4 linked regions of the Homo sapiens genome follow. The protein of the gene in region 1 interacts with the protein of each later gene in a biochemical or structural test. Each region holds a gene or a part of one and is shown on either strand. Other genes may lie near its edges. The genes, in order: MAVS, RIGI, DDX3X and IRF5.

Evidence for each region.
Region 2: the proteins of MAVS (region 1) and RIGI form a complex in vitro, tested with the Homo sapiens proteins (one study listed by BioGRID).
Region 3: the proteins of MAVS (region 1) and DDX3X form a complex in vitro, tested with the Homo sapiens proteins (one study listed by BioGRID).
Region 4: the proteins of MAVS (region 1) and IRF5 form a complex in vitro, tested with the Homo sapiens proteins (one study listed by BioGRID).

The regions. Positions count from the first base shown.
Region 1 is NC_000020.11:3,863,823-3,870,847, forward strand, and holds part of MAVS (mitochondrial antiviral-signaling protein), read left to right. Parts: intron 1-433; coding exon 434-966; intron 967-1,860; coding exon 1,861-2,325; 3' UTR 2,326-7,025.
Region 2 is NC_000009.12:32,488,173-32,495,197, reverse strand, and holds part of RIGI (antiviral innate immune response receptor RIG-I), read left to right. Parts: intron 1-1,255; coding exon 1,256-1,437; intron 1,438-2,646; exon of another isoform or gene 2,647-2,659; coding exon 2,660-2,807; intron 2,808-3,777; coding exon 3,778-3,897; intron 3,898-5,746; coding exon 5,747-5,854; intron 5,855-6,310; coding exon 6,311-6,464; intron 6,465-6,994; coding exon 6,995-7,025.
Region 3 is NC_000023.11:41,337,137-41,344,161, reverse strand, and holds part of DDX3X (ATP-dependent RNA helicase DDX3X), read right to left. Parts: intron 6,755-7,025; coding exon 6,697-6,754; intron 6,472-6,696; exon of another isoform or gene 5,127-6,471; coding exon 5,079-5,126; intron 2,679-5,078; coding exon 2,546-2,678; intron 1,668-2,545; coding exon 1,509-1,667; intron 1,426-1,508; coding exon 1,326-1,425; intron 947-1,325; coding exon 811-946; intron 426-810; coding exon 340-425; intron 133-339; coding exon 34-132; intron 1-33. UniProt on the Homo sapiens protein: Multifunctional ATP-dependent RNA helicase. The ATPase activity can be stimulated by various ribo-and deoxynucleic acids indicative for a relaxed substrate specificity.
Region 4 is NC_000007.14:128,934,053-128,940,931, reverse strand, and holds the start of IRF5 (interferon regulatory factor 5), read right to left. Parts: upstream 3,006-6,879; 5' UTR 2,883-3,005; intron 2,716-2,882; exon of another isoform or gene 2,687-2,715; intron 1,807-2,686; exon of another isoform or gene 1-1,806. UniProt on the Homo sapiens protein: Transcription factor that plays a critical role in innate immunity by activating expression of type I interferon (IFN) IFNA and INFB and inflammatory cytokines downstream of endolysosomal toll-like receptors TLR7, TLR8 and TLR9.

The sequences.
Region 1 (7,025 bases):
CTGCCACCCCTTGCCCTGATCCATGGCTGCTCCCACTCATGGTGGTAGGAGAGGGACAGCAGTGGGGGAAGTGTCCAGGATTGCATGAGGCTAAGGTCAAAGTAGAAAAGGTAGACACAGGAGAGGGGAGGTTTCCCAGGTGGGAGAGGAAAAAGCGGAGAGAATAATTAATAATGGTCTTCAGGCTCCTAGGTACCATTTCACTGTGTGCCAGGACAGACCTGGGGCTACAGGTCAAGGACTGAGGGCAGCTGTTGGGCTTTCAGGCCAGGAAGCAGTGACCAAAGGGACTGTGGCATCTCCTCCAAGGGCAGGAGATTTGGAGGCCTAGACACAGTAGGGACCATGAGATCTGGGCCAGAGGGACCCTTCTCCAGGCCTCAAGGTAATGGTCTTTGGGTCTGTGTTTCCACTTGTGTTTTTCCACCGGCAGGTGCGACCTCCAGCCTCACACCATCCCGTGGGCCTGTGTCTCCATCTGTCTCCTTCCAGCCCCTGGCCCGTTCCACCCCCAGGGCAAGCCGCTTGCCTGGACCCACAGGGTCAGTTGTATCTACTGGCACCTCCTTCTCCTCCTCATCCCCTGGCTTGGCCTCTGCAGGGGCTGCAGAGGGTAAACAGGGTGCAGAGAGTGACCAGGCCGAGCCTATCATCTGCTCCAGTGGGGCAGAGGCACCTGCCAACTCTCTGCCCTCCAAAGTGCCTACCACCTTGATGCCTGTGAACACAGTGGCCCTGAAAGTGCCTGCCAACCCAGCATCTGTCAGCACAGTGCCCTCCAAGTTGCCAACTAGCTCAAAGCCCCCTGGTGCAGTGCCTTCTAATGCGCTCACCAATCCAGCACCATCCAAATTGCCCATCAACTCAACCCGTGCTGGCATGGTGCCATCCAAAGTGCCTACTAGCATGGTGCTCACCAAGGTGTCTGCCAGCACAGTCCCCACTGACGGGAGCAGCAGAAATGAGGTGAGTCCTCGCCCTTCCTGGCAGGGATCCTGGCCCCTTCCCCCGGGACAGCTTGCCCACCTGGCCCTGGCCTTGGCCCCTTCCCAGTCTGCATTCTGTGTCCAGCCTGTGCTGCTCTGTGGCCTCTCCTTGAGGGCATACAGACAGTTGAGAACCAGCCTCATGCAGGCCCCACACCATGTTCTCCAGGAGGAACAGTCATTGAGCTTCTAAGTCTGGACACCTCAGGAGGGTCAGCCACAGGGGGCACCCACTGGTCAGGTGTATAAGTTCATTTAGGGCTCGTAGTTCCTAGTGAAGCCGAGCGGTGCCGTTTTGCACATAAGGAAGCAGTGACGGGGACAGCACAGTGGCCCATCTGCCTCTTGCCTTGCTCTTCACCAGGATGCCTGGTGTGTCCCTCCATGGCCAGGCTTTACAGAACGCAGTCCCACCTGGAGCAGCCACTCGGACCCAGCAGCCCCCCATTGTTGCCTGCTCCAAGCCTCACATCTAACCCTAGCTGCGGCTGTCTGCTGGGAAGAGCCAAGTCCATAGGGCCCTTTGGGCACATGGCCAGGCCTCTGACCCTGTGGCTGCTCTCTAGTTCTCAGGCCCAGGCAGGATGTCAGTGCAGGATGGAGCCCCGCCCTACCAAAGGCTTCCAGGTGGGCATGAGCTCACAGGCAGGCCAGGGAGTAGGGAAAGGCTGCCCTGGAGGAGGCCACCATTGGTGCAGATTCTTGGTCCCCTCTACCCCCACTGCTCCAAGAAAAGGTGGCCTAGGGGCATTATAGATTGGGAATTGAGGGGTTGGAGTGTTAGTTCATGCCCTGGCCTGGGAATGGGACCGCCCTACCAGGTTCGTCTCCCTGCCAACCCCAGTCCCTTCCAGTGCTCTCCTTTCTTTCCCAGGAGACCCCAGCAGCTCCAACACCCGCCGGCGCCACTGGAGGCAGCTCAGCCTGGCTAGACAGCAGCTCTGAGAATAGGGGCCTTGGGTCGGAGCTGAGTAAGCCTGGCGTGCTGGCATCCCAGGTAGACAGCCCGTTCTCGGGCTGCTTCGAGGATCTTGCCATCAGTGCCAGCACCTCCTTGGGCATGGGGCCCTGCCATGGCCCAGAGGAGAATGAGTATAAGTCCGAGGGCACCTTTGGGATCCACGTGGCTGAGAACCCCAGCATCCAGCTCCTGGAGGGCAACCCTGGGCCACCTGCGGACCCGGATGGCGGCCCCAGGCCACAAGCCGACCGGAAGTTCCAGGAGAGGGAGGTGCCATGCCACAGGCCCTCACCTGGGGCTCTGTGGCTCCAGGTGGCTGTGACAGGGGTGCTGGTAGTCACACTCCTGGTGGTGCTGTACCGGCGGCGTCTGCACTAGTGAAGCCCTGGGCTCTTCCCACCACCCATCTGTTCCGTTCCTGCAGTACACCTGGCCCCTCTCCGAAGCCCCTTGTCCCTTTCTTGGGGATTGTGGAGGCTGGGTCAGAGGGGAGTTAAGGGACTGCAGGCCTGGCAGCAGGACATGCCTTGGCTGAACCAAGTCCTGAGAGCAGCATCTCTGTCCCCACGGTGCCTTGTGTGGGTCCCCGTCCTTGGCTTTCTGGGTCCTGGGCTGCCCCCAGTGCTCCAGACCTTCCCCACTGGCAATCCAGGTTATCATCCATGTCCTCCAGAGGAGCTTCCTCCTCCAGGCCTCAGCCCTGTTGGCCCAGGTGGAGCAGGAGGGACCACTGGAACATGTGGTGCTTGGGAATGCCTCTCCTGTTGCATTGGTCCCTGAAGGCCTCAGGGCAGGTATGTGGTGTGTGGGCGACTCCACAAGACCTGCCTCCCATCCTGGCAGCCCAGCCTGAGACCGTTGCATTGAGGCAGGCAGGAGCGGCAGGGTGGCTGCTCTCCAGGAGCCCAACTGCCTTGAGTTCCTGCCCCACTGGGCCCCCTCCCCTGCTGGGCAATCCTGGGAAGGTCTGGAGGTTCCTGTGGACCTCAGGGAAGCCAGGGGCAGCTGTCAGGCCTGAGGAAGACCTGTGGAGCTCCTCTCCAGCCTCCTCTTTCCCTCCCCTCTGGTCTCCATTCTCTTCAGCTCCCTACATGGGCTGGGGAGGAGACACCTGGTGGGCAGAGCTCAGGCAGAGGTTTGGATTTCAGCTCCCTCACTTCCGGGGCTGTGTGGCTTTGGCAGATGTCAGACTTCTGGTCTTGCTTCTCCACGTGGACAGTGAGTATCTGGCTCATTCTTCACTGGGTTCTTCTGAGATTGAACCTACAGGTGTTTGCCAAGTGCCTGGCCCAGAGCAAGTGGCCACTGCTTCTCCCATCTCTCTCCTGCCCAACCTGGTAGAGCTGAGGGCATGAGAGGCAGAGTGCACAGTGGTCAAGGGTGCAGCTCTGCAGCACAGGCAGCCTAGGCCTGCGTCCCAACCTGCCTCTCACCAGCTCTGTGACCTTGGGCAAGGGATTTATCTGTCTGTCCCTTAGTTTTCTCACCTGTAAAAGGAGGATAAGTATATATATATATTTCCCAGTGTTGTGAAGATTAAAGGAGTTTATCGATGTAGGTCTTAGGATGAGTCCTGGCATTTACCAAGGGTTGGATATATGTTATTATCACTATTAAGTGTTGAGGGTCCAGGCATGCTGGGCAACAGGGACCCCATCTCTACAAAAAAGTTTAAAAAATTAGCCAGGCGTGGTGGTGCACCTGTCGTCTTAGCTACTTGGGAGGCTGAGGTGGGAGGATCACTTGAGCCCAGAAGCTTGAAGCTGCAGTGAGCTAGGATCGTGCCACTGCACTCCAACCTGGGTGAGAGAGCGAGACCCTGTCTCAAGAAAAAGAAAAATGCAGAGAAACAGGAGTCTTGGCTACTCCTTTAGAGGCAGACTCAGACCCTCCTGCCTCACAGCTTTATCTTTGTATTTGCCCCTTACTTTATCTTGTGCCTTGAGAAATTGCTGGGGAGAGAGGTATGTCCACTGGGCAGCTGTACAGGATGGAGGATATAGGGCGTTTCCACTCCCAGCAGCCAGGTTCCCTCACCCCAAGCTCACCCACTGTTGGGGAGATTATCTACAATAACACCAGAAACACATTGGGGTGGATTGGGGGTATCCTTATGGGTTCTTTTCAGGGAACCATTGCTGGACAAGGCACAGGAGCCACCTCCATTTCTGAGCTCTGCAAGGGACAAGAACTAGAGCCATCAGGGGCTGGGCTCACTGTGGCCCCACCCCAAGCCGTCAGCCTCCAGGGATCTACACCCTGCCTTGGCTGCTACAGCTTTTTCACTCCACTGCCCTAGGGGAGTTCAGCAACCTAATGATCTCTATCTCTGAACATCTCTTCATCCCATGCTCCAAGTCCAGCAACCTGCACCCTGGAACCAGGAGTGGACCCTACCCGAGCTGTCTGTATTAATCCCCATCCCCCACCACCAATCTTAAAAAGCCCTCTGTCCCCCTACCCTAAACCCCAGTTAGGTACCCATGCTGGGCAGGTCAGTTAACAATTTATGCACAGGTACTAGTTTTATTGTATTACCGTTCCAGGGTAGCTTTGAAAAAAGTATCTCAAAAAGGCAACATGGGCCGAGCGCAGTGGCTCACGCCTGTAATCCCAGCACTTTGGGAGGCCAAGGTGGGCAGATCGCCTGAGGTCTGGAGTTCAAGACCAGCCTGGCCAACAGGGTGAAACCCCGTCTCTACAAAAATAAGAAAATTAGCCAGGTGTAGTGGCAGACGTCTGTAATCCCAGCTATTCAGGAGGCTGAGGCACGAGAATTCCATGAACCCAGGATGCGGAGGTTGCAGTGAGCCGAGATTGTGCCACTGCGCTCCAGCCTGGGCGACAGAGTGGTATTCTGTTTCAAAAAAAAAAAAAAAGGCAGTATGTAGCCCCGAAGACTGTTGCCCAAGTGGTAGAATGTTAGCACACTACCAGCCTAGGTAAAAAATACAAAAAGTAACTGGGCATGGCGGCGCCCATCTATAGTCCCAGCTACATGGGAGGCTGAGGTGGGAAGATAAGTCACTTGAGCCCGCCAGGAGGCGGAGGTTGTAGTGAGCTGAGATCGCACCACTGCACTCCAGCCTGGGTGACCGAGTGATACTCTGTCTCAAAGAAAAAAAATTATAATTTTAGCACAGTAACCAGCCATGATGGGAGATACCCTGGGTAAGGCATGTAGAAAGGGTTGAGGGACCTTCCCAGTCCCCTAGCCCCGCCTCCCATCCTCCCATCTTTTTCTTTTTTCTTTTTTTTAGAGAATCACCCAGCCTGGAGCGAAGTGGTGCAATCATAACTCACTGTATCCTTAAACTCCCGGGCTTAAGCGATCCTCCTGCCTCAGCCTTCTGAGTAACTAGGACTTCAGGTACCTGTCACCATGCCTGGCTAATTAAATTTTTTTTTCTTTTTTTTTTTTGAGATGGAGTCTTGCTCTGTCACCCAGGCTGGAGTGCAGTGGCGCGATCTCAGCTCACTGCGACCTCCACCTCCTGGGTTCAGGCCATTCTCCCGCCTCAGCCTCCAGAGTAGCTGGGACTACAGGCGCCTGCCACCACGCCTGGCTAATTTTTTTGCACTTTTAGTAGAGACGGGGTTTCACTGTGTTAGCCAGGATGGTCTCGATCTCCTGACCTTGTGATCCGCCCGCCTCGGCCTCCCAAAGTGCTGGGATTACAGGCGTGAGCCACCGCGCCCAGCCAAATTAAATTTTTTATAGAGATGAGGTCATGCTGTTATGTTGCCCAGGTTGGCCTCATGAGATCTTGCCTTAGCCTCCCAAAGTGCTGGGATTACAGATGTGAGACACTGCACCCAAACCCCACCACTTTTTTTTTTCCTTTTTCTTTTTTTGAGACAGTCTTACTCCGTTGCCCAGGCTGGAGTGTAGTGGCATGATCTCAGCTCACTGCAACCTCCGCCTCCCGGGTTCAAGCAATTCTCCTGCCTCAGCCTCCCGAGTAGCTGGGATTACAGAGGCCTGCCACCACACCCGACTAATTTTCGTATTTTTAGTAGAGACGGGGTTTCTCCATGTTGGCCAGGCTGTTCTTGAACTCCTGACCTCAAGTGCTCCACCTGCGTTGGCTTCCCAAAGTGCTGGGATACAGGAGTGAGCCACTGCGCCTGGCTGATCCCAGCACTTTTCAAATGATGCCGCTCAAAGCCGTGACTTGGCCTACTTTGAACAGCAAACTTGTTGCTGCTGTTGTCAACCTGAAGGCCTCTCAAATGCCAGCTTCAAGCAGGGTGTGAATTGGCCAGTGTCAGATCTCAGGAGTCCTGTGTTGAGAGTGTGGCTTTCAGCTGCGGGGAGCTGCACTTGGTGGGGAAAGCCAGGCAGGTCACCCTCACAGCCAGATAATGTGGAGGTCAGAACCCAAGGAAGGGAGTGAGACCTCCACTCCCAGTGGGGGACCTGGCCACCCATCCTTGGGGACCTGAGAAAGCGTACTTCACCTTGGGGTGAAGGCTGGGTGGGGCCAGAGGGACCAGTGCCCTCCTCAGTGCTTAGGGGCAGAGCCACCTGCAGCAATGGTATCTGCATATTAGCCCCTCTCCACCTTCTTTCTCCCGCTGAATCATTTCCCTCAAAGCCCAAGAGCTGTCACTGCTTCTTTCTCCCTGGGAAGAATGCGTGGACTCTGCCTGGTGATAGACTGAAGCCAGAACAGTGCCACACCCTCGCCTTAATTCCTTGCTAGGTGTTCTCAGATTTATGAGACTTCTTAGTCAAATATGAGGGAGGTTGGATGTGGTGGCTTGTGCCTGTAATCCCAGCATTTTGGGAAGCCGAGGTGGGAGGATCCCTTGAAGCCAGGAGTTTGAGACAAGCCTGGGCAACAAAGCAAGACCCTATCTCTAAAAAAAAAAAAAAAAAAAAAAAAAAAAAAAAAAAAAAAAAATCTAGGAGATGCTCTTTACCCTGCCTGGCCTCAAACTATTAATAGCTTCCTTTGAGCAACATTATTTATTATGAACTTTCAAACACAAAAAAGTAGAGAGAGTAGAATAACAAATCCCCATGAGCCCATCACCCAACTTCAGTAATTATCAATTCATGGCCATCTTGTTCA
Region 2 (7,025 bases), on another chromosome or scaffold:
CAGAAAATAATGCATATAGGTGAGGATGTGGAGAAACTGCAACCCTGTGCCTGATTGGTAGGATTGTAAAATGGTGTTAACAGCCATGGAAAACAGTATGGCAGTCCCTCAAAAAATTGAAAATATATATCACCATATGATCCAGCAATTCTGCTTCTGGTGTATTTCCAAAAGAATTGAAAGCAAGGTATTGATGAGATATTTGCACATCCATGTTGATAGTAGCATTATTCGTGATAGCTTACAAGGTAGAAGCAACTCAAATGTCCATCAGTGATGAATGGATCAACAAAATGTGATATACACATACAATGGAATATTATTCAGCCTTAAAAAAAAAAGGAAATCCTGGCACATCCTGCAAAATGGACATACATTGAGGGTGCTGTGCTGAGTGAAATAAGCCAGTCACAAAAAGACAAATATTGTATTTTGCCACCTATATAGATTATCTAAAGTAGTCAGATTCATAGAAACAGAAAGAGTGGTGGTTACCAGGAGCAGGGGTGAGGAGAGAAAAAGGAATAGTTGTTTCATAGAGTTTTAGATTTGCAAGGTGAAAAAGGTCTGGATTTTTTTTTTATAACAAAATGAATTTAACACGACTGAACTGTACATTTAAAAATAGTTAAGATGGTAAATGTTTTATCTGTTTTTTACTACAATTTTAAAAAAGAATGAGGTTGAACATCTTATGTATGTTTCTTGGCCATTAGTATTTTTCTCTGAACTTTCTAAATATGATTTTTAAATAAATATCTTTTAAAGGCATGTAGAATAATATTAAGTAAATTTCCCATTTACTTAATATTATCTTAGAAAAATTAGAAGGAAAGTTCCTTGTGGGCAGGAATTAAGGTTTATATTTCTTTTTGCCTTCTTTACTGCTTTCCACTGAGAAGATACTTAATAAACCTGTTGACTCTGACTTTTTAAAGACAAATCAGGGATTGTAGGTGAAGTCTATGAGTCACTTTGGAAGAAAGATTTTATACTAAGATCAAAATGTAAGACTTCAAAGTTTTCCTTAGTACTTTTTCCCAATAGATAATAAATATTGCTAGAAGACCTAAAGTGTTGGCTGACTAAAATGAATACTGTTTTCTTTTTGAAAAATCAATGACAATTGGGGGTAATTTACAGATATTTTTTGAATTCTACCACCATACATTCAAACATGATTTCTATGATACTAATCTCAAAGTATTTTTCAGTTGGTTTCATAAAAGTCCACATTTTTTTTCTTTTTTTTCAGGTTATTCTGGACTTTATGAAGCCATTGAAAGTTGGGATTTCAAAAAAATTGAAAAGTTGGAGGAGTATAGATTACTTTTAAAACGTTTACAACCAGAATTTAAAACCAGAATTATCCCAACCGATATCATTTCTGATCTGTCTGAATGTTTAATTAATCAGGAATGTGAAGAAATTCTACAGGTAAGTTAATATAAAATACTAAAATTGGGGGAAATAATTATAACATGGGAAGGTCTTCTGTTTTCTATACTGTTTTAGACCTGAGAAAGATCATTGAAACCCACAAAAGTACTCATAGAATAGTACTTTTTTTTTTTTGAGACGGAGTCTCGCTCTGTCGCCCAGGCTGGAGTGCAATGGTGTGATCTCGGCTCATTGCAACCTCCGCCTCCTGAGTTCAACCAATTCTCCTGCCTCGCCTCTCGAGTAGCTGGGATTACAGGTGCGTGCTACCATGCCCAGCTAATTTTTGTATTTTTAGTAGAGATGGGGTTTCACCATGTTGGTCAGGCTGGTCTCGAACTCCTGACCTCGTGATCCACCCGCCTTGGCCTCTCAAAGTGCTGGGATTACAGGCGTGAGCCACCGTGCTCAGCCAGAATAGTACTTTTAATGTGAACTGAGTAATTTTTATGTCACAAAGTTTTTTTGAAGTTTGCCCTATTTTCAGTTAAAATCACCACAGTCTGTGAATAGTATTTTATGCAAATTTAAATTGAACAGTTGAGCAAATGAGAAAGGGCTACAGACTCTAGCAGTTAAGTGTTTAGACTCTGGACACAGATGAATTTTGTTAGAATCATAGCTCAACCACTAGCGGTATGATCTTGGGCAAGTTACTTAGTTTCTCTGAATATCTATCTGTTTCCTTGTGTGTAAAATGGAAATAATAATGTTACCTTATAATATGGTATTTTCATAAGGGTAATGAGATAATATATGTAAAGTACTCATGTATGTCTTGCACAGAGTATGTGTACAATAAACTTTAGTTATTATGGTTAGTAAAAGTCATACAAATTCCTCAACCCTGAAGAAAAATTTGTTAATATTTTGTTATCTGTTTCCAAATATTGCTATATGCCAATATACCCATATTGGGAATGGTTGTCAAATGATTATTTTCTTAATATTGCTGATGAGGATAGGTATAAGAACTTAGAGGTGATGAGAAGGCTTGGCTTGACATAGTGACATCATGTGTAAAGGACAAAGATGAAGGAAAAAGTATCTTAAAAGACTGTGTTGGATGGGGCAAAAATTGTCATGGATATGACCCACTGAGCTGTAATGTACAATGGCTTTAAATCAGATAGTACATGACTGACATTTCTTCAGTAAAAATTGATAAAGGGAAAACTTTTGAGATAATTGATCAATAAACTACAGTTACCTTGCTTAGATTTGCTCTACTAAGGGGATGATGGCAGGTGCAGAGAAATTGGTGGAATGCCTTCTCAGATCAGACAAGGAAAACTGGCCCAAAACTTTGAAACTTGCTTTGGAGAAAGAAAGGAACAAGTTCAGTGAACTGTGGATTGTAGAGAAAGGTAAGACACTGTACCCTCCTCACAGCTCTACTTAGGACTCGCTCATTCCAACCGGTCTTTTACATCCCATCAGAGGCGTTTTTCCCCTCAGATAGCCAGAGCTACATCTCTAACGCGAGACCAGCAGGAAGCTGGATTCTGGGAGGGAGGCAGTTACTTGCCTACAAAATTAGTTTGGTTGCATATAACCCCTAAAAATGGACTGGGGAAAACCACTCTCATCCAGAATTAGCCCATCTGGCCCAAAGGATTTGAGGAAGGCAAAATCCGAACTCTCAGTCTAAGTTTAGATTATCAGAGAAATAGCTTGAGAATTCTAGAGTTAAAGGTTCAAACTCCAGGACTTACCCCCTTTTCAGAGTTGATTTCTTGACAGACATTGCCTGGTTCTCTTACTGGAAGCCATCTGGAACTGAATCCGACGGGTGAAAGAATTGGTTGTCATTAAGTGTCTGAACTATCATTTGGTTTCTTGAAGCTGACACTCAGCATTGTTTCAAAGGCTGAGTTTGGTAAACATCTGAATATCTGGTCTTAGCTTTCCTAGGCTTCTTTAGATCATAAGTTGTTTCAGAAACTGTATAAATACACATCTGATTTAATGGGTCAAGAGTCAGTCAGAAAAGGAAGACATGAATGTCTGCTAAATCATGCTCTTTTTTTTTTTTTTTTTTTTTGGTGCATACGAATCCCTCCGAGGTCTTGTTAAAATGTGGATTCTGATTCAGTAGGGCAATACGTTCCACACTTTGAGTAATATAGCTCTAAATTACATTGGAGGTCAACGCCAAATTGAGATTTTAAACTCAAAATGATTCTTTCAACTGTTTTAAAAGGTGAAGGGGAGTGGTTGTGAGAAATTTTAATAGAAGTTAAAAATCTTAGTGTTATGACCATTTTGTGGAGCTTTCACCATCAAAACTATAATCAGATTATGTGAAGATTCTAAGACTTTTTTGGTCTTAAAAAGGTATAAAAGATGTTGAAACAGAAGATCTTGAGGATAAGATGGAAACTTCTGACATACAGATTTTCTACCAAGAAGATCCAGAATGCCAGAATCTTAGTGAGAATTCATGTCCACCTTCAGGTACCTGGTATTGTTTGTCCTTTTCCATAATGGTGCTCTTCTGGTATTTGGTGTGGGGGCTTGTTTTGCAGTACCCAAAGTCACAGCCTTGTGAAAAGTTTTGTAAGGAAAATTAAGAAAGTAAAGAGAATTTATGTTACAATAGATACTTTTTCTATATTTAGAATGCCATTCTCTCCTAGTTCTTCCACTATCTTTTTTTCTTCTTTTACTATCTTTTTTTTCTTCTTCTACCACTAAGAAAGTATGGGCGTGTCTATATTGGAAATGCAAATAGAGTCTTCACCAAAACCCAATGTCTATGAATTCCCAAATCAACCTTGCTTTCTAAATAAATACTACTTCTATTTCTGAGTCACTTGCTCAATTTCCTTTTAGGATCCCTGGGCTGCCCTGCAAGTTGATGAAGTTAGTGTGCTACCCAAATGCGCCTGGCTGAGAGGTTGAGTAGGGGCTGAGATCCAGCCTGTGTCGTTTGCAACACAGTGCACTGAGGGGCTGTGTCCTCCAAGAGGAGCTCCCTTTTGTCATTTACACAAAGGCACTGTATAAGTTAGCTGTGGCCCTGTGAGGCCCCCTTATGCTTCTCAAAGCATATTTTCTTGATGGTTTTATGAGACCGGCAAGTTGCATAATATGCCATAATAAAAAGTTATGTATAAAAGAGTATCAGGAAGGAAATTGGGATTAATAGTGGTGGTAGAAGAAAAATGATATTAGAATAACATCATAAAGAGAAAATGTGCAGATTACGTCTGCAACTGAATGTTACAAGTTTTTTTGTTTTGTTTTGTTTTTTTGGTCATTTCAGAATAAAATCTGTTACCCCTTGGAAAAAAAAAACAGATACATGAATATGAGTTGCTTTAAATTTTCTGACACGTGAAGATTCTTGCATGCCTTTTGTTGTTGTTGTTGTTATTGTTTTTTGAGACTGAGTCTCTCGCTCTGTTGCTCAGGCTGGCGTGCAGTGGCACAATCTCAGCTCACTGCAACCTTGGGTTCAAGTGATTCTCCTGCCTCAGTCTCCCAAGTAGCTGGGACCACAGGCATGTGCCACCACATCTGGTTAATTTTTGTATTTTTTTTGGAGAGGTGGGGATTTCAGCATGTCGGCCAGGCTGTTCTTGAACTCCTGACCTCAAGTGATCCATCCACCTCAGCCTCCCAAGTGCTGGGATTACAGGCATGAGCCACTGCACCTGGCCTTTACATGTCTTTCGTGTGAGTTTAATTCACTTAACCTTTTAGAAATTCTCCCTTTCTCTAAAATGGGTAGGTTAGACTCAGTAGATAATTTCCAAAGTCTTTGCTAGCTCTTAATGATTTATATGCCTACCTGTTATTGAGATAAAGCCTTTGATTATTTTTTAAAACTTCTGGTTATGTTGAGAGAAAATATCATTTGAGAACTTGAAGAACGACAAAGCATTATTGCTCCTTAATAAGAAATTGCTTTGAGAATCCAATGTTAACAGTTTGGTTTTCTTCAAAGATCGTGGGAGGATTTGTTGCTTTTTTCACATACAGCATTGCCTTTAGTAGACAGCTTGTCTTACCCTGAATGGGGCCATTCTTTCTTTGGTTTCTGTTAGCCTTCCATGATTGTATAAAAAATAATTCATGTTTTTTTTTTTTTCTTTCTTGCCATCAATACTTTGTCACTGAGAGAATTCTGTACTTCAAATTAGTGGAAAAGCTAGAATGGTTACCAAGAGAAAGGATTCTAAACTTTCTCCAATGAGGATCTTCTTGCTGGAGTCAGAATTTGTGGACATTAGACTGTAGCTATTGCCGTGATTCCTCAGAGCAGGAACTGTTTGGTAATTTTGCTCCTTTTGTATTCCAGAAGTGTCTGATACAAACTTGTACAGCCCATTTAAACCAAGAAATTACCAATTAGAGCTTGCTTTGCCTGCTATGAAAGGAAAAAACACAATAATATGTGCTCCTACAGGTAAGCCTATTGCCATTACTTACATAGTTTTTCTGTTTGCTTCCTTTTTTTTCTTTTGTTGAATACTGGGACAGAATGGGCAAGTTTCAGTTTTTTCCTTGTTCCATGTGTCTTTTGAGAAAACTGTCCTAATATAATCCTAATGTTTTTTATGGGATTATGTAATTAATTAATTATGTACATTAATGTATTTAATGTATTTTCTTTACCTTTCATGAGAAGGTAAAGAAAAGTGTCCTCTTTTAGCTTGCTTTTGGGTCCTGGCTGTTGGCATGCTACTTAGGGAGCAGCTTGATATTTTTTAGTCATAGTGTAAATTCTGTAATCATTAACATATTTAAATTATCAATTAATTAGTCAGCTCAGTGGTATTAGAAGAGCCAAAAATAAACACCTTTCCAGAGAAATATCTAATATATGAGTTACATGTTTTCTTTTTTCCTTACATGTTAAAAGGTTGTGGAAAAACCTTTGTTTCACTGCTTATATGTGAACATCATCTTAAAAAATTCCCACAAGGACAAAAGGGGAAAGTTGTCTTTTTTGCGAATCAGATCCCAGTGTATGAACAGCAGAAATCTGTATTCTCAAAATACTTTGAAAGACATGGGTAGGTATAATAGTTGCTTCAACTTCTTTTTCTCCAGCTTCATGTAATTGATGTGTTTTCTGTTTTGTTTTTGACAAATGATTTAAAAAAATTTATATTAGATTCAGCTTTTTTATAATCCAGATGTTATCCCTTCATGGATTCAAGTCTTTTTTGTTAGATGTACCAGAAAACTTAAACTCCCCTGGTTTGCCCTTCTATGGGGAGTAAATGACTTCAGGAATAAATTTGATGTTTACGTGGCACATTTAACTTCTTTAGTGATTTTATAATTTATTTGATATTATTCTTTTACGTACTCTTTTCTCTCTTAGTGACTTAAAATAATATATAGTACTATAAATTACAACTAGCTTGGATTTATTGATCTCTTACTATGTGTCAGGCTCTGTGCTAAGGACTTGCCTACAGCTATTCTTCTTTTGGACTCAGGGAGAATTTAATCAGTTGATGTTCTGATCTAGCATTTCATCTTTGTGGTTCCTTATCCACATCGTGGTTAGTAATATGGAATTTCTGTCATTTCCCAGGTATAGAGTTACAGGCATTTCTGGAGCAACA
Region 3 (7,025 bases), on another chromosome or scaffold:
AAAAAGCTAATAATCACTGGAACTCATACTTACTTTTCTGGCTTCCTCGTAGATCTGTACTGCCAACTCTCTCGTTGGTGCTAATACCAAGGAGATTGGGTATTGTTTGCGGCGCCCATACCTTCCATTTTCCTAAGAAATAAGTTAATTTTTAAGTTAACTCTACCTACCCTGTTTGAAAAGTTCATCACAACATAATTCCCTTTTGTAATTTATAGATTACAGATTACACTTGAAAACTGGTTTTCATTCTACTTAAGTCTTAGCATCATTTAGAAAGCCCTCTCAATGGCCACCTACAAAGTTCTACAATTTCCCATTTTATAAAGAAACATCTACCTTCATGGCCCTCAAAGCCTCGCCTGGACCATCTGAATAAATCTGACTCAAGATGGGCAACAGAAATGCTGCAGTTTTTCCAGACCCTGTTCAAAAACAAACAAACAAATCCTGCTCATTACTTTTAAACAGACATTGGTAGATGACAGTGTTTTTTAACTACCCTATTACTAATAATTAGTACTTTTAGTTTATGCTTAAGTTTTCCAAAAAGTGGCTTCTCTGCTCCACCTCTAAGAGGAGTCAGCAAACTGAGACTATTTTGTAAATAAAGCCTGTTATTTTTATAAATAAAGCTCTTACGGAATACAGCCGTAACCAATAATTTATGTATCATCTATGGCTTCTTTCACAGTCCAATAGCAGCGCAGAGCAGCTGCAAAACTGCATGACCCATAAAAAATAAAATATTTTATTGTCTAGTCCTTTACAGAAGAAATATGATGTTTTACTCTTATGAGTTGAGCTTACCTGTTTGGGCACAAGCCATCAAGTCTCTTTTCTCTTTGATAATAGGAATAGCATGCTTTTGCACTGGAGTTGGGCGAGTATAACGAGTAAGCTCAATGTTTCCCATGATAATTTCTCCCATCTCAACATCACTGAACTGTTAAGAAATTCAATGGGGTTAGGAATGCTATCTAGAGCTATTTCTGTTTTATACTAATAATGGAAACAACCAACCAACAGCTGATTGGTAACTCAGTTTATAGTTTAAGTAAAATTATCACATTATACTTTGAGAAAAACCAACCCCCAGGCTTACTGCACATTGGAGAAGACTTTGGGTTGTTCCTATGTTTGACCCATTTTCTATTTTAGGTAATAAATTATTCATAATGGTGACACTGAACTCAACTTCTCCTTTTCCACAAATCTATGAAGCCTCTGGTCTACATGACTTTATGAAGCCCATCTCACATTCTAATGTAACATGAAAACATTTAACCTCTCTGTGTCTTAAAAAGTCAAGCAAAAATACTCACACTTTCAATATGTGGAGGACAGTTGTTGCCTGTTGCCTCAACTGGAATGTCATCGTATTTCTCAAAATTAATCCCAGTGTTGCCTCCAGAAAAGAGTTCCCTCAAATCAAAAAATGGATAAGTTCATTTGTTATACTAGCTAGTAAGGCTTCATCACAAGTAACATACACTTCAAAAACTTACTGTTCCAAGCGTTCACTTGGTGGGAGTGGTTTTGACCAATCATCTTCATCTGATTTGTCACACCAGCGACTGTTTCCACCACGTTCAAATTTGCCAAAGCCACTTCTGTCACCACGGCTGCCAATGCCATCGTAATCACTCCGTCCACGATCATCAAACCTGAACAGCACAAGCAATTAATCAGAATCATATCATTTAACCATTATCAGATTCTTATCCCTACTCTAGAACTGTATCTGGAGACTTAAGTTATGGCTAACCATAAGGATGTCAACAATCCAATTCTGAGTTACTTGACAAATAAGGCTCTCTAACCAGCATCATTTACATAACCTCGTTTTCTAAAATCAGTAATCTTTACATTTCTATAAAGTTGTATAGCCTAAAAGGCCTCACAGATGCCAAAATTAAGAATAAGGATTTTATTTGAAATCGGCACACAGCTCACAACCTTCATTTAAAGTGCTCATCCAAATATATTTAATGGTAGGGAAAACAAGAAAATAGCACACCAAATATCAATCGTCCTAGTTATACTAGGATGTCACTTAAAGGACAATTCACCTGTGTGACAGACTTTGGATAAAAGGTAGAAAATAATCCTTACCTGAACTAAGATGTTTTTAAGAGTTTTAGGCCTGTTTGCGAAAAATCAGGACACAGGACTAACCACAGCTATTAGGCACGTGGGGTCAGTTCACCACACTTGTGTAATCAAAAATACAAGGTGTTTAGAAATTGTTATAGAGTCCACAAAAATCCCAACCAAATTAGGCCATTCACTAGATGAACTTACTCTTTTAAGTAGAACATATAAAACTCGAGAAATAGAATAACTCATTTCATTATGCCAATGAGCATATTCCTATTTTCATCTAATTTCTAAGTAACAGGTTCAATTTAGTAAAAGCCTCTTACGGCTAAGAAAATACAATGACCAAACAGACATAATGCTTAACATCCAAACAGGTGGTCAGGATAACGACTTATTAAACTGTTATTATACATACACGTAAGGTGATTAAGAAATCACTTACCTTCCCCTTGATCCACTTCCACGATCACTGAAGAAGCTAGACTTCCCTCTTGAATCACTACGAGATCCAAAACTGCTATACGCATCCTTATCTTTGCTAGAACTCCACCCTGAACTGTCTTTATCGTAGAAACCTTTGATTAAAAAAGCACAAATACATTTTATTATTAATTAGAAATAGGAACCATGTTAAGGTATTATCAATCTTTCTGAATTTGAAAGCCTCCACTGACTATCCCTACCATGGCACTGTAAGAGAACCAAGATTTAAAGCTGGTTTACACCCGGACAAAGTTTTTCTTTAATTCTCCCCACTAGAAAATACTGTCCACTGGCCAGGCATGGTGGCTCACGCCTGTAATCCCAGCACTTTGGGAGGCCAAGGCGGGCAGGTCACCTGAGGTCAGGAGTTCGAGACTAGCCTGACCAACATGGAGAAACCCCGTCTCTACTACATATACAATATTAGCCAGGCGTGGTGGCCCACGTCTGTAATCCCAGCTACTCAGGAGGCTGAGGCAGGAGAATCACTTGAACCCGGGAGGCTGAGGTTGCAGTGAGCCAAGATTGCGCCACTGCACTCCAGCACGGGAAACAAGAGTGAAACACCCTTGTCTCAAAAAAAAAAAAATTACTTTACACTAAATCAAGCAATCTGACAGTCTAAGAATGTTTCTCAATGAATACTACCTCTAAGTGGTCAACAGCTTTGCCTGTAACGCATTATGACGTTGTGTGACCATAACAATTTAATTTCCATTCATTTTATAGGTGTGAATGAGTTTACTAGGAAAAACAGTTACCATTGTTTCCATGTTTCTTGGAGGTGGTATTCATTTAGAACATTCATAGACTGTCAGATTACTTGGTTTAATACAGTATTTTTCAGTTTCAATAGTATAAAGTACAAGAACACTAATGTCAAATTGTAGTATTATTTTAGTGGTTCATCTACTATAAGCTTGATGACAATCAGGAATACCTGGGAAAAAGAAAAACCCTCATCACTATATATTCTCAGTATAGACAAGGTTCCTGGGTACAGCTATAAATATCCAGGTAAGGGGATGACAAACATGTAAATTAACCCAAAGACAGGTAGAGGGTTTAAAGACAGGTAGAGGGTTTAACTAGCTTCAGCAACACCTTATTAAACAGAAACAGCTTCTCAATTCAGTTACTTTCCTTCTGCCTTCTACCTCCTACCGTTAGGCCAGTCAGGTGACCAACAGCCTTTGCTAGCAAGAAAGAGTTAAGTTAGATTGCCAGATCTCTACCAGCTCTAAAACCTCTATGATACTGCCATATACACGAGGGTCAATTCTAGCTAGTATACTAGGAATATTGAGAACATCCATGATGATAAAGACAAATTCCAAAGTAACCTCCCCTAAAAAGAATATAATGCCAGCCAGGCATGGTGGCTCACGCCTGTAATCCCAGCACTTTGGGAGGCTGAGGCGGGTGGATCACTTGAGGTCAGGAGTTCGAGACCAGCCTAGGCAACAAGGCAAAACCCCGTCTCTACTAAATATACAAAAATTAGCCGGGCATGGTGGCACATGCCTGTGATCCCAGCTACTTGGGAGGCTGAGGCAGGAGAATCACTTGAACCCAGGAGGCGGAGGTTGCAGTGAGCCCGCGCTACTGCACTCCAGCCTCCGCAGCAGAGCAAGGCTCCGTCTCAAAAAAAAAAAAAAAAAAAAAAAGCCAAAGTGATCTTCTGGTAGAAATAATACAGATTTTATATCCATGCATTGCCAGGACAGTGAAGGTAATACAGACTACATATGGAGATGGAGGAACAGCAGCAAACCATGTGCTCCCCTGTGGACTCTCCACTCTTCCTATCTGCCTTCTTTATACAGTATCTTCCCTCCTAATCTTTGGTTTTCCTGACTTTCCCTTTTCCTCCAAATTTTGGATGGTCTATTTTACAGAATATAAAGCACCCGAACAGCTGTCTCATAATATGAAACATATACTAGCTGTCATCTATCACTACGTTACAATTACAATGGGAAAAGACACCAGATATTGTAATACATTTTGGACAAAACCTTTCAAAAGCAGCAAGGCAAGGAGATGAAACCAGAGAATCACTTCCAACGCTGTAACTTGTTAACTGTTCTACAATAAGCCCATCTTCATTTCTAGCAACTTTGCCAAGACAGAAATAACCAGGTTGTTATCATTATACAGCTTGGTTTACACAGTAGGGCACCCACCTCTTCCAAACTAAAACCATGCTGTGAATGATTACAAACAGATTCAGCACAACACTAGTGAAACTGTACAAAACCATGCCCTTGGCGTCAGAACAGTTTGACATAGGAATGCCGAATTTCCCACTGCGTAACATTAGATGAGTTCTTCCAAAATTATTAAGCTCTAGTATTTGAACCAAGGCTGACAGAAGCATAGAAAAACAACACCATGTTTAGACCTCCCCCAAATGCCTGGTTTTCCTTAGGCTTTACTAACTTCTAAAGGAGGCAAAAAATAGACCTACGAAGTTACTTGTGAGGACCTACCTTTAGTAGCTTCTCGGTTCCTTAAATGAGGAGGAATATAGCGCCCTTCTAAAAAAATATATATATATATAAAATTAATTAAATGCCAAAAAACCTTCCCATTTAAATTTCTGTTACTAAAAAATGGTTCTGGGAAATTAAAATCTCCAGCCTTCCAATCTGATTACTTACCTGGACACTGAGAGGGGGGAAAAATAAGAATCTAATTTTAAATGGGTTACTGCTTCATAAGGAGAACTCTGAAAGGAGTTTGATAAAAAAAAGCTGATTTGGAACCTAATAGTTGAAATCCACAAATTGAGCACATTTAGCCACCAGTGGTCATTTAATGTGATTTTTTTAAAGGCCTGCTAGATTTAAGAGAACTGTCATCAAAACTGTCAACAAAAGCATTAAGTATTACTGTAACAATTTAAGATTACTCATGTAACATATCTCACAATCTTTTGTTTCTATGCCAGTAAGTTGCAAAACATACAATAAATAAACAAGGAAAAGCTGCAAAGGGGAGTTAATTTCAAGGAATTGCAGGTTTTAATTTGGGGCTTGCTGAGTTTAAGGAAAGTTGACAGTTGCTCTGTATGCGAGCAGGAGTACAGCCTAGAATATGGATAAGCAAAAAAAACAACATAAAGCCAAATAAATTTGCTTTATAACTAGTAAACGTGTCATTTTTCTTTTTCACTTCTAGACTGAATTAAATATTTTTAAAAATCTCTACTAGGACAATCAGTTCCTAAAAGATTCTTAGCATGACAAATAAGGTGAAAGTTAAAGCAAACACCAAGTTTTGTTCCCAGTGAAGCTGTTCTTGCCTAAAAATGAGGACACATCATAGCCCATACTCACTTTTGTTTTAATAAGTAGGAAGAGATCTGAGCTAAAAATAAGGGTCTATTGCCCTTATAATAAACCACCAAGATCCCCTATCTTAACACTAACCTCTAACAAGTCTCTAAATAACCCCCCTTAGAAGAAAAAAAGCAACTTTTCTAATGCCTTTTTAAAAGAAATGACACATTTGAAAACCTAACCTAACCACCAATCCAAAATTCAGTATAGTCTTCTGTTCTTCAGGAGAAAGGAGTAGCTATAACCAATGAAATGCATATTCCCTTAATTCAATTTAATAAATATAGTCAGTTAACAGGGACACATTCCCATCACCTCTAAACTGGGCTCAGGATTTATAATGGACAAAAACTCTTCTAGAGATAATTTGATATAATAAGGTTCTTTCCAATGATTAGCTGCTTTTACTCAAGAGAGCCAGCTAGTCATTGATGTTTTATTATCAGAAAGGCACAGCTATTCGGGAGGCTGAGGCAGGAGAATCGCTTGAACCCGGAGGCAGAGACTGCGGTGAGCCGAGATCACACCATTGCACTCCAACCTGGGCAACAAGAGCAAAGCTCCATCTCAACCAAAAAAAAAAAAAAAAGGCAACGATGCTTTAGATTGATCACTAAGTACTACATAATTCTATAACACAAAGACTACATAATTCTTTAAGCAGTAAAAAATTGAAAGGCAAATTTCTTAAATTTTACATAAGCCCAATGAAATCTTAAGATGTTAAGCTCTAATATTCAATAAACCCACAAGATGTTGTACTTACTGCTGGCTGTACTTCCTCCACTCTGATTATCTGAAGAGTTCAGGTCTAGGCCAGCAAACTAGAAGAGAGTGAGATGGTTAGCACCCCATGTGCTCAAATACTACATTAAGAGAAAACTAGTCCTGCCCTCTAGCATTTGCTAGTACTGCATTCAAGTAGTTGCCCAGTCCACCTCACAGGGCTAATACCAACCCTTAATGAGAATGTGACTAAGAATGTTTTCAAGTCTGCAATGCTCTAAGCAAATGCAATATTACTATTGTATATACTACAGAAGGCGGCACACCAAGATGCTTGTGCTGTTCAGTAGAAACTGTCCAAATTTAATT
Region 4 (6,879 bases), on another chromosome or scaffold:
TGCTTTGGCCTTGCAGCATGGAGCCTCAGTTTCCCCTGAAATTCCCTGCCCAGTACCTTTTGGGGTTGCACCTGCCTAGTGCCGCCTCTGAGCTGCTACTGTCTCACATTGCAGGCCTCCCTCAGAGCCCAGCTCTGCTGCCACCAACCCAGGAGAGGTAAGGCCGGCCCTTGCCTGGCCCAGGGGCTGGGACGGGGAGGTGTTCAGAACGCTCCAGCCCTGCCCTGGCCTCAGAACACGCGGGCTCAGTTCCGCTTTCTGCCCCAGCCTCCACCCGGCCCCAGGGGAAACGAAAGTGGCTAGACCGGGACAACTCAGAAACCAGACTCACTGTGGGCTGAGGGAGGGAGCCGAGTGGGTCCCCCAGACCAAATTTCCAACCTCCCACCCAGAGCTGTTCCCCGCACCCCAAACTTGCAGACAGTTTTTGTGCATTTAGTGTGGTTTATAACATGGGTGTGCACCCACCCATAGTTGTATCTGTAGACCCCTGAGAGGCCTTGGCCCTAGAATAGAGGGGTGCCAGTCACCAGCGGCACACAATTCTGGCCGAGCAAGGGTGGACAGAGGAAGCTCTGTCTGCACAGAATCGGGGAGAGCTTCCCTAATGACCCCCTGGGCTGAGGCCGTGCAGGCGCTGGTGCCGTTGGGGAGCTCAGAGGGTCCGGCTGCCTGCCCCCTACTGTCAGTCCAGCAGTCTGGCCCTGCCCAACACGGCTGTTTAATACAGAGCAAGGTTTTGAAATGATAACTCCGACCTCAGTGTCAGAGGGCCGCGTCCATACAGGCAGCTTAGGGAGGGGTGTGGAGGAGGAGCTCCCGTGACAAGCCCGGCTGTGATGAGCGAGAGTCTGTCCACCATGCCACAGAAGGGACTCAGCCTCAAGGCTTTTGCCTGCAGCTAGGTCCACACGAGCTCTAACCCGAACAGCATCCATCCTCCTAGAAGCTCCCTTCTGCCCAGAAAAGGGCTAGGTCTAATTCAGACCACCCCAATCAAGGCCCATGACTTTGGAAGTTCGGTGTCAGAACAGGTCTGCCTGCCAGGCTCCGGAGTCTCTGGGTGAAATGTATGGAGCCCTAGACCTAAGTCAATGGACCTGAGCCCCGGAAGGTGGGGAAATCCAACAGCCTGAGGAAGTCCCTACAATTGTGTGAGGCAGCGAAGCATCCAGTGGGCAGCCCTAGAGGACCTGCTGAGGTGGGGTAAGCCCACAGCTCACCCCAGGGCCATGCTGGAGTCCCAGGAGACAGTGCCCCCACCACCACCCAGGAGCTGCAATTCATGGGCACCAGGGACCCACTAGGGGAGGAAGTGCCACAGCAGTCCTAGTAAGAGTGGCCAGACAGCAGGCGCCCTGCTGCTCCCAGGGTTGGTCTGGGTCACATGTCTCCTTGCAAACCCACACCCAGCTCAGGGAGAGGACAAGGGGTTCCCTGTACAGGCCCTGACCCCCAAATCCCACCCCTCCGGGTCAGCTGCCCACACCCTGGGCCCTGCTGCCCACCTGGTCCAGACAGGCTGAGGCTCTGGGGCAAAAGGTGCCCAGAAAGAAGCTTCTTTCAGCTTCCTCCCAGGGTCAGGGTAGGGGAAGACCAGGGTACAGGGGAAAAACCCCAAAGTAGGGCCTTTAGATAAAAAGGGGTGATTTCCCAGTGCTTCCCTTGACTCTTGGAACCCCTCAGCCCCAGCACCCCAGGCCCCATAACTACTGGGGGTGGGGGCAGGAAGGGGAGGTCTTGCCAGAGGGCCTCCTGAGGGGCTACAGTTTCCTACATCGATACAGCCGAGCCCTCTCTGGTTCTGGTCACTTATCCCCATTCTGGGCCCTCGAGGAGCCCAGGCCCAGCCCAGTCCTCCGCCCCTGCTCCCCCCTCCCCTCCGCCCCCACCCCTCCCGCGTGCTCCGCTGGGGCACACCCCCTGGGCCAGCCCGCGGAGCCACCCCCACCTCCAGAGTCGGCCTCTGGACCTCTCCTCCTGCTGCTGGAGGAGCAGCACCCCGGTCCTCGCCCTGCTGTGTTCAGCGTGGCCGCGAGGCTGGGAAAGTCCCCCACTCCAGCCTCTGCTCCCAGGTACCCGCTCCCGCCCCTCCCGGGGTCCGGAGACAACCATCTCCCCACGCATCCCGGCCATGCTAGCCTCACTTTTCCTCCACGTTTAGCCTCTTCATTGTTGCCTTCTTAAGTTCTGGGACAGGACCTGAGGAAACCAGCCCAGGAACTATTGCGCCCCATCCTTTTCCGCTGCTCGGGGGACGAGAGTCTGCCATTCCCGGCCGCGAGCCCAGGGACGCAGCCTCTACCTGACACCATCTTCCCCCAAACTCTTGCACAGTTCCTGCCATTGGCCTGAAGATCCCGGGGGATGAACGCTTTAACCTCAACCTCTTTTCCGAAAGGGTGAGGGTGGCCCGGTAAGAGCAAGGGCGAGTGCATCGAAAGTAAGGATCGGGCCTCGCTCCTCTGTGGTCCAAGCCAGCCTCCAGCGGGGCTCCCGGGAACCCCCATTCTGGGCGATGGCGAGGGGGAGGGAGAGCAGCAGAGCCGGCGCCCCCCGCAGCGCTGCCCACTCCGCCGCCTGGGTCACTGGGCTCCCCGGGCGCCAGCACCCCAAACCGATCGGGGCGTGGGAGGCGCTTTGGAAGTCCCAGGCCGGCCGGGCGCACCCTGCTGTAGGCACCCACCCGAGCTCGCTTTCCAGGCGCAGCTGGACGCGGACCCCGCCCTACTCCAGTCTTCATCCCGCCGCCCGCAGGTGCCTGGGGGGCGCGGGGCCCAGTCTAGGCCTAGACTTGGGGGCAGTAGCCGGCACCGCTCCCGCCACCCTCGGGGCGCGCCGGGCGCGGACGCAGAGAGGAGAGCGCGGCGGCCGGGACCCACCTGTCTGCGGTGCGCCTGCGTGGCTGCGCCAGGGAGCACCGGCCGGGCGGCGGGACCAAGCTGAGCTCTGCCCAGGCTGCGCCTCCCGCCGGTCCGCCAACCTGCCGGGCACTTCCGCGTCTTGCCGCCCCCGCCCCTGGGCAGCTGCTGCTGAGCTCCGGGCGCGGGCAGTGCCCCGCCCCGCCCCGCGAATCCACTCCGGGCCCCGCACTGACCTGGCAACTGCAGATCCGGGCTGAGCCTCGGGCCAGGCCCAGGGCCTCCAGGGAGATGCCAGACGGCGCGGTGCCCTAGACTGGCCACTGGCTCTTTTGGCAATCTGGAATGGCAAAACTGTCATTTGACAACCCCGTACCTCCCGCTGCAGTGCTCAGTTGGGCCCTGGGAGAGGGTGGGGTGCTTCCCCACTCTGGTCCTCCGGGGCTGCACACAAATGAGGGCGCAGTGTGGCCGACCCACAGCTCCAGGCCCTCCTCTCGCCTGCCTACACCCCTGGCGAGGGTGGCTCTCGCCCTAGAACACAGTCGCTGCCCCCAGGATCCAGACACCCCTTCCAGATGTGCTTGCAGGCGGGAATCCTCTAGTCACTCTGTGCCTTTCTCATCCTCAAACCCTGCACCTGTCTCGCCCCAGCTCCCCTAAGTCGCCTTCCAGTCATCCCAGGGGCAGCGGCGTGGTCGCCTGTCCCACCTCCTCTCACTACTACCTTGACCGTCGACCTGTGGTTCTGAACCGTTTTCGATTCCATAAAGAACCTCACCCCAGAACCTCCACCTTCACACACCTCCTGTTCCTTCTCATGGAATGTTCTTCGCTTGGTAACTCTTGCTCTTCAAAATTTCTGTTTCTGAAATTTTCAGCATCGCCTTCTCTGGAAAGTCTGCCTTGACTTCCCCTCCCAGGTGGGGTTCCAGGGTGCAAATAGCTTCCTGGTTGATTTTGCTTATGATTTTGTTATGGATTGCCAGGGGTTTGGTCCAGGTCTGGCTGCTCACCGCACAGAAAGCCTATCACTGAGACAGCGAGTATTGCCAGGGAAGACTTTATTCCGGTGACATCAGCCAGTGAGCTGTTGAGAGGGGAGACAAACCTCCAATCCATCCCTCCCCTTGACTAAAGTTAGGGGCTTATATAGCAGGGAAGGAAAACAGGAGGGACAAGGAAGAGGAATTGGTCAACAGGCAGCAGGTGTACTGATGTAAGTGTCTCAAGCTTCAGTTCTATGAGCATCTGGCTTTTTGGAAAATTCAGCGGGTTTCAATTTTGATGTCTGATTTCCACTCGAATCAGCTTACTCAGGAACCTCCCTCCTGTCTTTTCATTGTTCATTTTATTTTATTTTATTTTTTGATATGGAGTCTTGCTCTGTCACCCGGGCTGGAGTGCAGCAGTGCGATCTCAGCTCACTGCAACCTCTGCCTCCCCAGTTCAAGCGATTCTCCTGCCTCAGCCTCCCAAGTAGAGACGGGGTTTCACCATGTTGGCCAGGCTGGTCTCGAGCTCCTGACCTCAGGCGATCCACCCGCCTTGGCCTCCCAAAGTGCTGGGATTACAGGCGGGAGCCACTGCGCCAAGCAGAGCCTTGTATTTTTAACAAATAAAGTAGTATTTGTTGATGAATCAGAACTTTGACCTTCCCTCCCCTCCCTTCTCCTGGGTTGAACTTTACCTTTAACAAGTTAAAAAAAGACACTCATGTGTTAACGTTTTTTTTTTTTCTCTTCTGTATCTCTCCCTCTTTCCTGACCTTTGAAGCCCTAATATGAAGTCGAAATATCATTATATATAAGTATTTTATTATTTGTATCTGCTGAGTATTTCATTATTTCATATTTTTAAAATTTAAAGTATGGATGGGGAAAATGTGAATGGGTAGATCGTTTTATATTTCTTTCTTTAAAAATGAAATTGCTAGGCCAGGCACGGTGGCTCACATTTGTAATCCCAACACTTTGAGAGGCTAAGGCAGGCAGATCACTTGAGTCCAAGAGTTCGAGACCAGCCTGGGCAATATGGCAAAACCTTGTCTCTACAAAAAATACAAAAATTAGCCTGGCGTGGTGACACACACCTATAGTTCCACCTACTTGGGAGGCTGAGGTGGGAGAATTGCTTGAACCCAGGAGGCACACCACCGCACTCCAGCCTGGGCGTAGAAGTGAGATCTTATCTCAAAATAATAATAATAAAATGAAATTGCTATTTCAAAAGTGGCTCCCCACAAAATGGGAACCTTTTTCACTGGAGGTCAGTTATGCTTAATAGAAAAATATTCTATGCTGGTCGTATCTGGAGCAATAGCTAAGAAGAGCCTTCTTTTGTTATCAAATACTCCTCACCCATTCTGAGGGACCGTGAGACCCTAGAATTCTGCCCTCTGCCCCCTTCCCACTGTCCATCTTGCTCAGGTGAGGCCCCTTCCTTAGAGCCTCTGAACCTCAAGAAGCAGCACGGGCTGCGTGCAGAGAAGGGGCTTGCACCTGGCTTTGCTGTATTCCAGCCAAGTGGCCTTAAGTAGGACCTCAAATCTCATTTCCTCGTCTCTAAAAGGGGGATGATGTTACCAAGCCGGCAGCATTGATATGGGGCTCCCGGGATAGAGGCTATGCAGGGGCTCAGCTTGGCTCAGATCCTGACTTCCCTCAACTGAAAGAACCTGAGCCAAGAATCATCTGGGGCCAGAGACATGGCCCAGGAGAAAGGAAGGACAGAGAGCAGCACTCCAGTGTTTCCAGGATCTGGGATCCCTTGGCCTCCCAGTGCCATCCTGGGGGTGGAAGGGCAAGTAGAGGGGAAGTGAAGCCACACCCGGCCCTTGTGTGAGCACTCCCATTTCCCCTTGATGGGCCAGGAGGCGGTGGGGACAGGGAGGTCTGTCCGGGCCCCCCACTCCCCACAGTGAGATGGCCCCTTCCCCCATTTCCCCTGGCTGGAATATCACAGACTGAGGGTGTGGTAGGAGGCACCCTCCCCTGACTCGAGTAGAAGCTACGCTGTGTGAGCGAGTGTAGAGTGGGGTGGCTGGGGTGGGGAGCAGGGGGGAGGAGGGAAGCCGTGTCACCAAAGGGAACTGAAAGAAACCCAGAGGCCCACTGGGCAGCTGAACAATGCACCCTGGCTCTGGAACAGCCCCCTTCAGTGCAGCCTGGGTTGATGACAACTGCCTTTGCCTCTCAAAACCTCTACCCCAGGAAACCCACCCCCTCGGCCTGGGCTCTCAGGGGTCCCCAGGCTGACTGTCCTATTTCTCAGAAACCCCGAGTTTCTGAGAACTTGTTGGCTGGACATCAGGCTCTGAGGTCAACAGGTCTGAGTCAAATCCTCACTCTGCAATCTAGAATTGCGTGACCTAAGCAAGCCATTCACTCCCCCAGAAGCCCCATTTCCCATCTGTAAAGGAGAATGGTGACACCAGTGTCACGAATTGGCTGTGAGTCTACATTCAACAATGCTTATCGGGCATGTTGTACCTGCCAGGATAAAGTGGTGGACAATTTCTACTTTGTCTAAAAACCCCTGCCCTCCTGGAGCTTCCATTCTGCAGAGTAAGATAGACGATAAATCCTCAAGTAATGAAATCGGGTGAGGCCTTGAGGGGCACCTCACAGGCTATGGCTTTGCTAGGGACAGTCACTGAAAGGTTCAGATCTGAGGCATGACATAGTCTGATTTAGATTTTAACACCTCTTGGCCGGGTGGGGTGGCTCACGCCTGTAATCCCAGCACTTTGGGAGGCTGAGGCAGGTGGATGACCTGAGGTCAGGAGATCGAGACCAGCCTGGCCAACATGGGGAAACCCCGTCTCTACTAAAAAAAAAAAAATACAAAAGTTAGCCAGGCGTGGTGGTTCATACTTGTAATCCCAGCTACTCGGGAAGCTGAGGCAGGAAAATTGCTTGAACCCAGAAGGCGGAGGTTGTAGTGAGCCGAGATTGCACCATTGCACTCCAGCCTGGGTGACAGAGCGATACTCCGTCTCAAAAGAAAAAAGAAAAAA